Linked DNA regions of Homo sapiens. The protein of the gene in region 1 interacts with the protein of each later gene in a pairwise test. Each region holds a gene or a part of one and is shown in the gene's direction. Other genes may lie near its edges.

Region 1 (4,520 bases):
CCGCAGCATCCTGGACCTTCCGTGGCAGATTGTGCAGGTATAGACCTTGATCCAAGGGGAGGGCAGTGGCTCTGCTGATGGCCCAGGGAGGGGGTGTCCAGCTGGGCCCTGAGGTCTGGGATGGGAGGGTTAGAGTGGGCCTGGAGTTTCCTGCCCATCGTAGGGAGGCCTAAGGCCCTGTGCTGGGAGCTGCAAGCTACCTGGAAGGTGGCCCCGTCTGTGGGTTCCAGTGTGTCCTGTGATGTGCTGTATGTCCGTGTGGCCTTTCAGATCAGCGAGACCAGCCAGGCCGGCCTGTTCAGGCTGTGGGCGCTCGTTGGCAGTGACTTGCACTGCATCAGGCTGAGCATCCCCCGTGTGTTCTACGTGAACCAGCGAGTCGCTAAAGCGGAGGAGGGTGCTTCGTATCGCAAGGTAGGGAGGAGCTGGTGCTGCCTCTGCAGTCATCTGGGCAGCCTGAGGTGGCTTTCCCATGATCTAGCCTGGCCTCCAGCCTCCATCTCCTCAGTACCTTATGGGGATGTTCTAGGAATTCCTCAAAACAACGTGTGTGAGCGCTGAGCACCGAGCCTGGGGCAGAGCGAGTGCCGGGAATGGAGCTGCTGGTGTCCTTGTCACGATGAGCTTGTCTGCCCGCGAGGTCCATGTTGCGGGGACAAACCAAGTGGCATTGGTTAGAGATTGTGAACTCTGTCTCCGTAGGCTCTTTGGTTGTTAACAGCTTTATTGGGATGTAAAGTTACGCCATCCAACTCACCCATTTAAAGTGCAGAATTCAATGACTTTTAGTGGCATGACTATTGCCAGTCAATAGTGACATTTTCTTTTTTTTTCTTTTTTTTAATTTTACTTTGATTTCTGGGATCCATGTGCAGAAAGTGCAGGTTTGTTACATAAGTAAGCACATGCCATGGTGGTTTGCTGCACCCATCACCCCGTCACCTGGGCATTAGGCCCCACATGCATTAGCTGTTTATCCTGATATTCCCCCTCCCCTCACCCCCCCATTCGGATATTTTCATCACTCCAAAAAGAAACCTGGCATCCCTTACCTGTCACCATCCTCCCCCAGCCCTCAGTAGCCACTGATCCACTTCCTGTCTCTGGGTTTGCCTGTTTGGGCATTTGATGTAAATGGAACCCTACAGTAGGTGGGTCTTTGTGCTGGGCTTCTTCCACCTGCAGAAACTGCGAGGGTTTTCATGTGGCCATGAGTGCGCTGAGGCTCTTAGATGGCATCTCCACCCGAACTCCCCGTTGTTAATGTGTCGGCTCAGCACATTTCTTGACTGGATGCTGTGAATCACGTAAGAAGTGACACGTAGTTGGGGAGATGAGGTGTGCATATTTGTACCTACACAAGGAGGTTTTCTGGAGAAGGTGAAACTCGATTCCAGCCAGGTGATTCAGTAGAATGTGCATATAGAAAGTAGACGCAGAGCCAGGTGTGGTGGTTCACACCTGTAATCCCCGCACTTTGGGAGACCGAGGTGGGCGGATAACAAGAGGAAAGCGGACGCAGAGGCATCGAGACCACAGAGAACAGGTGGGACTGTGGGGTTTCTACACCTTCCTTTCGATGCGTGGTGCTGTGGTGCTGTGGCCGTGTGGAAGTGCCCTAACTTTTGGGATGTTTCCCTTTATGACTATCAGCTCATCTCGAGGGAGGTTCTGGCGCTGTGTGAATATTCTGTCCTCAACGTTTGACTGGATGGTGTCAGCATCCATGTCTCGTGGGGTCCATGGGGCTCCAGGATGATATCTTCAGATTCTGTTCCTCTGTGTGTATTAGCTGTTTCCTTTATAACGAAGAGCTTTGTGCAGATCAGGTAGAAATGAACTCTATTCCTTAAAAAGCAAGATACGAGAGGGATAATACGCTTTTTTTTTTTTTAAGCAAGATAAATGCTTTTTCCCTTTAAATTATTTTTAATTTTCAAGGTAGGGCATGGCAAAATGGGTTTATTCCTTTCATTTTTCCTCTCTTTTTAAAGTATTACTATGGATTAGAGGATTTTTGTTTAACTTTTTTGTTTCTGTTTTTGAGAAGGTCTCTCACTCCATCACCCAGGCTGGAGTGCAGTGGCATGATCTTGCCTCACTGCAGCCTTGTACTCTTGGGCTCAAGCAATCCTCCTGCCTCAGTGTTTAATGTTTTAACATCAACCGTAGCCAAATCCCGCCCAACACACACACGTTAGGTATGTTAAGGTACACGGTAGGCCCTCACTTTATGTTGTTGATAGGTCCTTAGAAACTGCAATTTTAAGTGAAATGACTAAGTAAGATGATGTATAATGAAACAGATTTTTTTTCTTCTCAGAAACTATAATGAAACTGTGTTGGCCAGGCGCAGTGCTGCATATCTGTAATCCCAGCAATTTGGGAGGCTGAGGCTGGTGGATTGCTTGAGCTCAGGCATTCGAGACCAGCCTGGGCAACGTGGCAAAACCCCTTCTCTACAGAGTATTTTTTAAATTTATTTATTTTTATTTGTTTGTTTGTTTGTTTTGAGATGGAGTTTCTCTCCTGTTGCCCGGCTGGAGTCCAGTGGCGCATCTCGGCTCACCGCAACCTCCGCCTCCCGGGTTCAAGAAATTCTCCTGCCTCAGCCTCCCAAGTAGCTGGGATTACAGGCACGCACCACCACGCCCGGCTAATTTTGTATTTTTTAGTAGAGATGGGGTTTCTCTGTGTTGGTTAGGCTGGTCTCGAACTCCTGACCTCAGGTAATCCATCCACCTCGGCCTCCCAAAGTGCTGGGATTACAGGTTGAACCATGGCGCCCGGCCCCAGAATTTTTTTTTTTTTTTTTTTAAAGGAAGAAAGAATGTTGAACAAAATGATGTTATTTGAGGACCTGCTATACATTACTTCACTTAACCATCACAGTTTCCAGGAATCCATTGATGTTAAGTGAGGACTTACTGTAATTTACATATAGTTAAGTGCAGATTTTTAAATGTGCAGTTGATTGGGTTTTTGGACACATGACTATGCCTGTGTCACCCACACCCCCACCCAGGTGCAGAACGTTTCCATCACCCGGGAGGGTGCTCTTGTCCCCCTGTGCAACCTTCTGCTGGCCTGATTTCTGTATTTCTGTAACTGTGTGCATGTGACTTTCTAGAACTTCATATTAATGGAACCAGACAGTAGACTCTTTGGTGGTCAATATCTTCTTGAGACTCAAATTATCCCAAATTGGGCTGGCCAGATCCCTTCAAGCTGGCACCTGAGTCCTTTTGACATGCCCTGTTGGTCTTTGAAAACTTCCTTGCTTTTTGGCCACTAAGAGAGGCCAGGCTCACCTTGAACTTCCAGACGTGGAATTAGCTGTTCCTCTAAAGAGCCTGAGCCTCGTTGAGAGGTTATGTTGAGAAACCAAGCTTAGAGCTCAAGGGGTATCATTTCATCTAGATTCCTTCAGTGAACAGCCAGGAAATATATACATTTTAAAAAGTGCAATTACACTAATTGTTCCAGTTCATATTTACCAGAACATAATTTTTCATTTCTTTGATTTTGTGTGTGTGTGTGTGGGTGTGTGTGTGTGTCGGTCTAATTTCATGTTACTGGAAAAATCTAACCCTACTGGTTCTCTTCTCGCTTGAGAATTATTCAGATTTTCCTGGTTGTTGTTACGCCAAATAACGCTTTATTGCAACCTGGACATTTTACATATTTGAGACTTTGGGTATTTTTAAAAATCCTTTAGCGTGTCAGGTTTTTTTGTTTGTTTGTTTTAGCAACAACCAACACGGTTAATTCCAGTGCCCAAGCTCTTCCTTGCCTCTTTGTGCAAAGCTTCCAATGTCAGCTCAGCCTCCAGAGCCTCTGCTGCGTTGTTTTGGGTCACCTGTGCAAGTGCAGCTCGTAGTGAGCCTGGGACTTGTGCTGCTGGTTCATGCATGAAGCTAGGGTGCTCCTCTCCAGGATTCCCCCAGCCCCCCACACACGAAGCTAGGGTGCCCCCTCTCCAGCTCTCCTCTCCAGGATTCCCCCAGCCCTCCACACAGGGAGCTAGGGTACCCCTCTCCAGCTCGCCTCTCCAGAATTCCCCCAGCCCTCCACACAGGGAGCTAGGGTGCCCCCTCTTCAGCTCTCCCAGACCCCCCAGGACCCCACACAGGAAGCTAGGGTGCACCCTCTCCAGCTCTCCCAGACCCCCCAGGACCCCACACAGGAAGCTAGGGTGCCCCCTCTCCAGCTCTCCCAGACCCCCCCAGGACCCCACACAGGGAGCTAGGGTGCCCCTCTCCAGCTCTCCCAGACCCCCCCAGGACCCCACACAGGAAGCTAGGGTGCCCCCTCTCCAGCTTTCCCAGGCCCCCCCAGGACCCCATTCACGAAGCTAGGGTGCCCCTCTCCAGCTCTCCCAGACCCCCCCAGGACCCCACACAGGAAGCTAGGGTGCCCCTCTCCAGCTCTCCCAGACCCCCCCAGGACCCCACACAGGGAGCTAGGGTGCCCCCTCTCCAGCTCTCCCAGACCCCCCCAGGACCCCACACAGGGAGCTA
Region 2 (4,369 bases), on another chromosome or scaffold:
GAACCTGTGATTCAAGACAGTGGTCTAAGAAGAGGGAAGAGGTAAAGTAAAATATAAACTGAAATCTAGGCTGAGTGTGGTGGCTCATGCCTGTACTCCCACCACTTTGGGAGACTGAGGCAGGAGTATAGCTTGAAACCAAAAGTTTGAGACCAGCCTGGGCAACAAAGTGAGACCCCATCTTTACTAAATAACTGAGATCCCATCTCTACTAAATAAATAAATTAAAACACAAAAATTCTTAGCTGGGCATGGTGGTGTGCACCTATTGTTCTAGCTGTTTGGGAAGTTGAGGCAGAAGGAGTGCTTGAGCCCAGGAATTTGAGGCTGCAGTGAGCTATGATTGCACGACTGCACTCCAGGCTGGGTAACAGAGGGAGACCCTGTCTCTAAAAAAATGAAAACAACAACAAAAAAACCCAGAACTGAAATCTGTCCATTGGATTTAGCAGGTAGAAGGTTAATAGTGATCTTTCAAGAAAAGAGGAAAGAAAAGGAAGGCAGTCTAGCACTCACTTGAGGTGAGCTAGTCTCCCTGACTAGGTCTCCCGTGAGGAAGCATGCCAGATGGAACCACTCCTTAAGGAGTATTTGTTGATTTTAATGTATTGGTGTTAGCTTTTGTTTTTAAAAACCTTTAAAAGTTGCAGAATGAAAATATAAACATATATAATTTAAATGATGTTTATAAAGCAGATACCTATCTAGCCACTCCCTAGGTCAAACTATAGAATATGACCAGTATCCCACATATATCCCTCTCTGATCAAAATGTCTCTGATCAGAATGTCCCTGGGAGGTGACTGCTGTGGTCATTGTTGCCTTAGTTTTCCCTTTTTTTTTTTTTTTTTTGAGGTGGAGTGTCGCTCTGTTGCCCAGGCTGGAGTGCAGTGGTGTGATCTCAACTCACTGCAACCTCTGCCTCCTGGGTTCAAGCAATTCTCCTGCCTCACTGTCCTGATTAGCTGAGACTACAGGCACGCGCCACCATGCCCAGCTAATTTTGGTATTTTTAGTAGAGATGGGGGTTTCATCATGTTGGCCATAATGGTCTTGATCTCCTGACCTCGTGATCTGCCCTCCTCGGCCTCCCAAAGTGCTGGGATTACAGGCATGATCCACCGCACCCGGCCTAATTTTGTATTTTTATAGGGATGGGGTTTCACCCTGTTGGCCAGGCTGGTCTCAAACTCCTGACTCAGATGATCTGCCTGCCTCGGCCTCCCAAAGTGCTGTTTTTTTTTTTTTTAATTGTCTTTTTGATAATTCCACTATTTTTTTTTTTTTTTGAAAAGTCTCCCATGTCTACCTCTTTCCACACAGACACGGCAACCATCCGATTTCTCAATCTTTTCCCCACCTTTTCCCGCTTTCTAGTCCACAAAACCACCATTGTCATCGTGGCCCGTTCTCAATGAGCTGTTGGGCACACCTCCCAGATGGGGTGGTGGCCGGGCAGAGGGGCTCCTCACTTCCCAGCAGGGGCGGCCGGGCAGAGGCGCCCCTCACCTCCCGGACAGGGCGGCTGGCCGGGCGGGGGGCTGACCCCCCCACCTCCCTCCCGGACGGGGCGGCTGGCCGGGCAGAGGGGCTCCTCACTTCCCAGTAGGGGCGGCCGGGCAGAGGCGCCCCTCACCTCCCGGACGAGGCGGCTGGCCGGGCGGGGGGGGCTGACCCCACCACCTCCCTCCCAGACGGGGCGGCTGGCCGGGTGGGGGGCTGACCCCCCACCTCCCTCCCGGACGGGGCGGCTGGCTGCGTGGGGGGCTGACCCCCCCACCTCCCTCCCGGACAGGGCGGCTGGCCGGGCAGAGGGGCTCCTCACTTCCCAGTAGGGGTGGCTGGGCAGGGGCGCCCCTCACCTCCCGGACGGGGTGGCTGGCCGGGCAGGGGGCTGACCCCCCCACCTCCCTCCTGGAGGGGGCGGCTGCCGGGCGGAGATGCTCCTCACTTCTCAGACGGGGCGGCTGCCGGGCGGAGGGTCTCCTCCCTTCTCAGACGGGGAGGCTGGGCAGAGACCCTCCTCACCTCCCAGACGGGGTCGCGGCCGGGCAGAGGCGCTCCTCACATCCCAGACGGGGCGGCGGGGCAAAGGCGCTCCCCACATCTCAGACGATGAGCGGCCGGGCAGAGACGCTCCTCACTTCCTAGATGGGATGGCGGCCGGGCAGAGACACTCCTCACTTTCCAGACTGGGCAGCCAGGCAGAGGGGCTCCTCACATCCCAGACGATGGGCGGCCAGGCAGAGACGCCCCTCACTTCCCAGACGGGGTGGCGGCCGGGCAGAGGCTGCACTCTGGGCACTTTGGGAGGCCAAGGCAGGCGGCTGGGAGGTGGAGGTTGTAGCAAGCCGAGATCCCGCCACTGCACTCCAGCCTGGGCACCATTGAGCACTGAGTGAACCAGACACCGTCTGCAATCGCGGCACCTCCGGAGGCCGAGGCTGGCGGATCACTCGCGGTTAGGAGCTGGAGACCAGCCCGGCCAACACAGCGAAACCCCGTCTCCACTAACAAAATACGAAAACCAGTCAGGCGTGGCGGCGCGCGCCTGCAATCGCAGGCACTCGGCAGGCTGAGGCAGGAGAGTCAGGCAGGGAGGTTGCAGTGAGCTGAGATGGCAGCAGTACAGTCCAGCTTCGGCTCGGCATCAGAGGGAGACCGTGGAAAGGATAATTCCACTATTACTTGTCTTTTGGGGTTTGTTTTTATTCTCTCTTTGAGTTTTGTTTCCTTATGCGCCCAGTTACTTTTGAAAATGTTCTGGGCAGATTTGCCTAGATTAATAAATGCCCTCCATGTTCCAATTACTTTTTTTTTTTTGAGACAGTGTCTTACCCTGTCACCAAGCTGGAGTGCAGTGGTATGATCTTGGCTCACTGCAACCTCTGCCTCCTGAGTTCAAGTGATTCTCCTGCCTCAGCCTCCCAAGTAGCTGGCATTACAGGCACCTGACACCACGCCCAGCTAATTTTTTTTTTTTTTTTTTTTTTGAGACGGAGTCTCGCTCTGTCACCCAGGCTGGAGTTCAGTGGCATGATCTTGGCTTACTGCAAGCTCTGCCTCCTGGGTTCACCCATTCTCCCGCCTCAGCCTCCCGAGTAGCTGGGACTACAGGTGCCCGCCACTATGCCTGGCTAATTGTTTTTTTTTTTGTATTTTTAGTAGAGATGGGGTTTCACCGTGTTAGCCAGGATGGTCTTGATCTCCGGACCTCGTGATCCACCCGTCTCAGCCTGCCAAAGTGCTGGGATTACAGGCATGAGCCACCGCATCTGGCCTATTTTTGTATTTTTAATGGAGACCGGGTTTCATCATGTTGGCCAGGCTGGTCTTGAACTTGAACTTCTGACCTCAAGTGATCCACCCTTAGCGTCCCAAAGTGCTGGGATTACAGGCATGAGCCACCGTGCCCGGCCCCAGTTATTTTTATTTTTATTTTTTGAGTTAGAGTCTCACTCTGTCACCCAGGCTGGAGCGCAGTGGCATGATCTCGGCTCACAGCAACTTTCTGGGTTCAAGCAGTTCTCCTGTGTCAGCCTCCTGAGTAGCTGGGACTACAGGCACACATCACCACGCCCGGCTAATTTTTGTAGTTTTAGTAGAGACGGGGTTTTACCATATTGGTCAGGCTGATATTGAACTCCTGACCTCAGGTGATCCACCCACGTCAGCCTCCCAAAGTGCCGGGATTACAGGCTTGAGCCATCTCGCCCGGCCTACTTAGATGTTATATTAGTGGTAATTCCTGTTATCCTGTGAGCTCTTTAGTGTCTAAACAATTTTTTTTAAGAGATGGGGTCTCACTGTGTTGCCCAGTTGCAATCATATCTTACTGCAGCCTCAAACTCCTGGGTCAAGTGATCCTCTTGCCTTAGTCTCCCAAGTAGCTAGGACCATAGGTGTCTGCCCCCACGCCTGGCTGTTTTTACATTTTTTGTAGAGATGTGGCGGGTGGGGGGGTCTCACTGTGTTGCCCAGACTGGTCTCGAACTCCTGTCCTCAATTGATCCTGCTACCTCAGCCTCCCAAAATGCTGAATTACAGGCATGAGCCACTGTACCTGGTCTTAAACAATTTTAAAATAACATTTTTATCCAGGATTTTAGTTAATTTTCAACAGGTGGATTAGTTCTTGCTGTATTCTCGTAAACAGAAGTCCTGGTTTATTTTTATTTGTTTTAAACATTGAATCCCATACTCCTCCCCACCTTACCCTACCCAGAATTTAGACTGTTAATGTTTTGAAGCCACAGCCTGCATCTTAATCACTATTTTATCTTAGTGCCTGGTCTTAGAAATTATATTGACTCTTTGATAGACCATATATAAGGCAGGTGGATGAGAATGTGGGTAGCTAGTTGGAAAA

What was found. Proteins that work in one complex are often made in the same cells at the same time.
Region 2: the proteins of POLE (region 1) and WHR1 interact in a two-hybrid assay, tested with the Homo sapiens proteins (one study listed by BioGRID and IntAct).

The regions. Positions count from the first base shown.
Region 1 is NC_000012.12:132,644,823-132,649,342, reverse strand, and holds part of POLE (DNA polymerase epsilon catalytic subunit A), read left to right. Parts: coding exon 1-37; intron 38-270; coding exon 271-414; intron 415-4,520. UniProt on the Homo sapiens protein: Catalytic component of the DNA polymerase epsilon complex. Participates in chromosomal DNA replication.
Region 2 is NC_000006.12:31,974,368-31,978,736, forward strand, and holds part of WHR1 (winged helix repair factor 1), read left to right. Parts: intron 1-4,369. UniProt on the Homo sapiens protein: DNA-binding protein which is required for efficient transcription-coupled nucleotide excision repair (TC-NER). Acts as part of a TC-NER complex which assembles and interacts with RNA polymerase II (RNAPII) when it stalls at DNA lesions.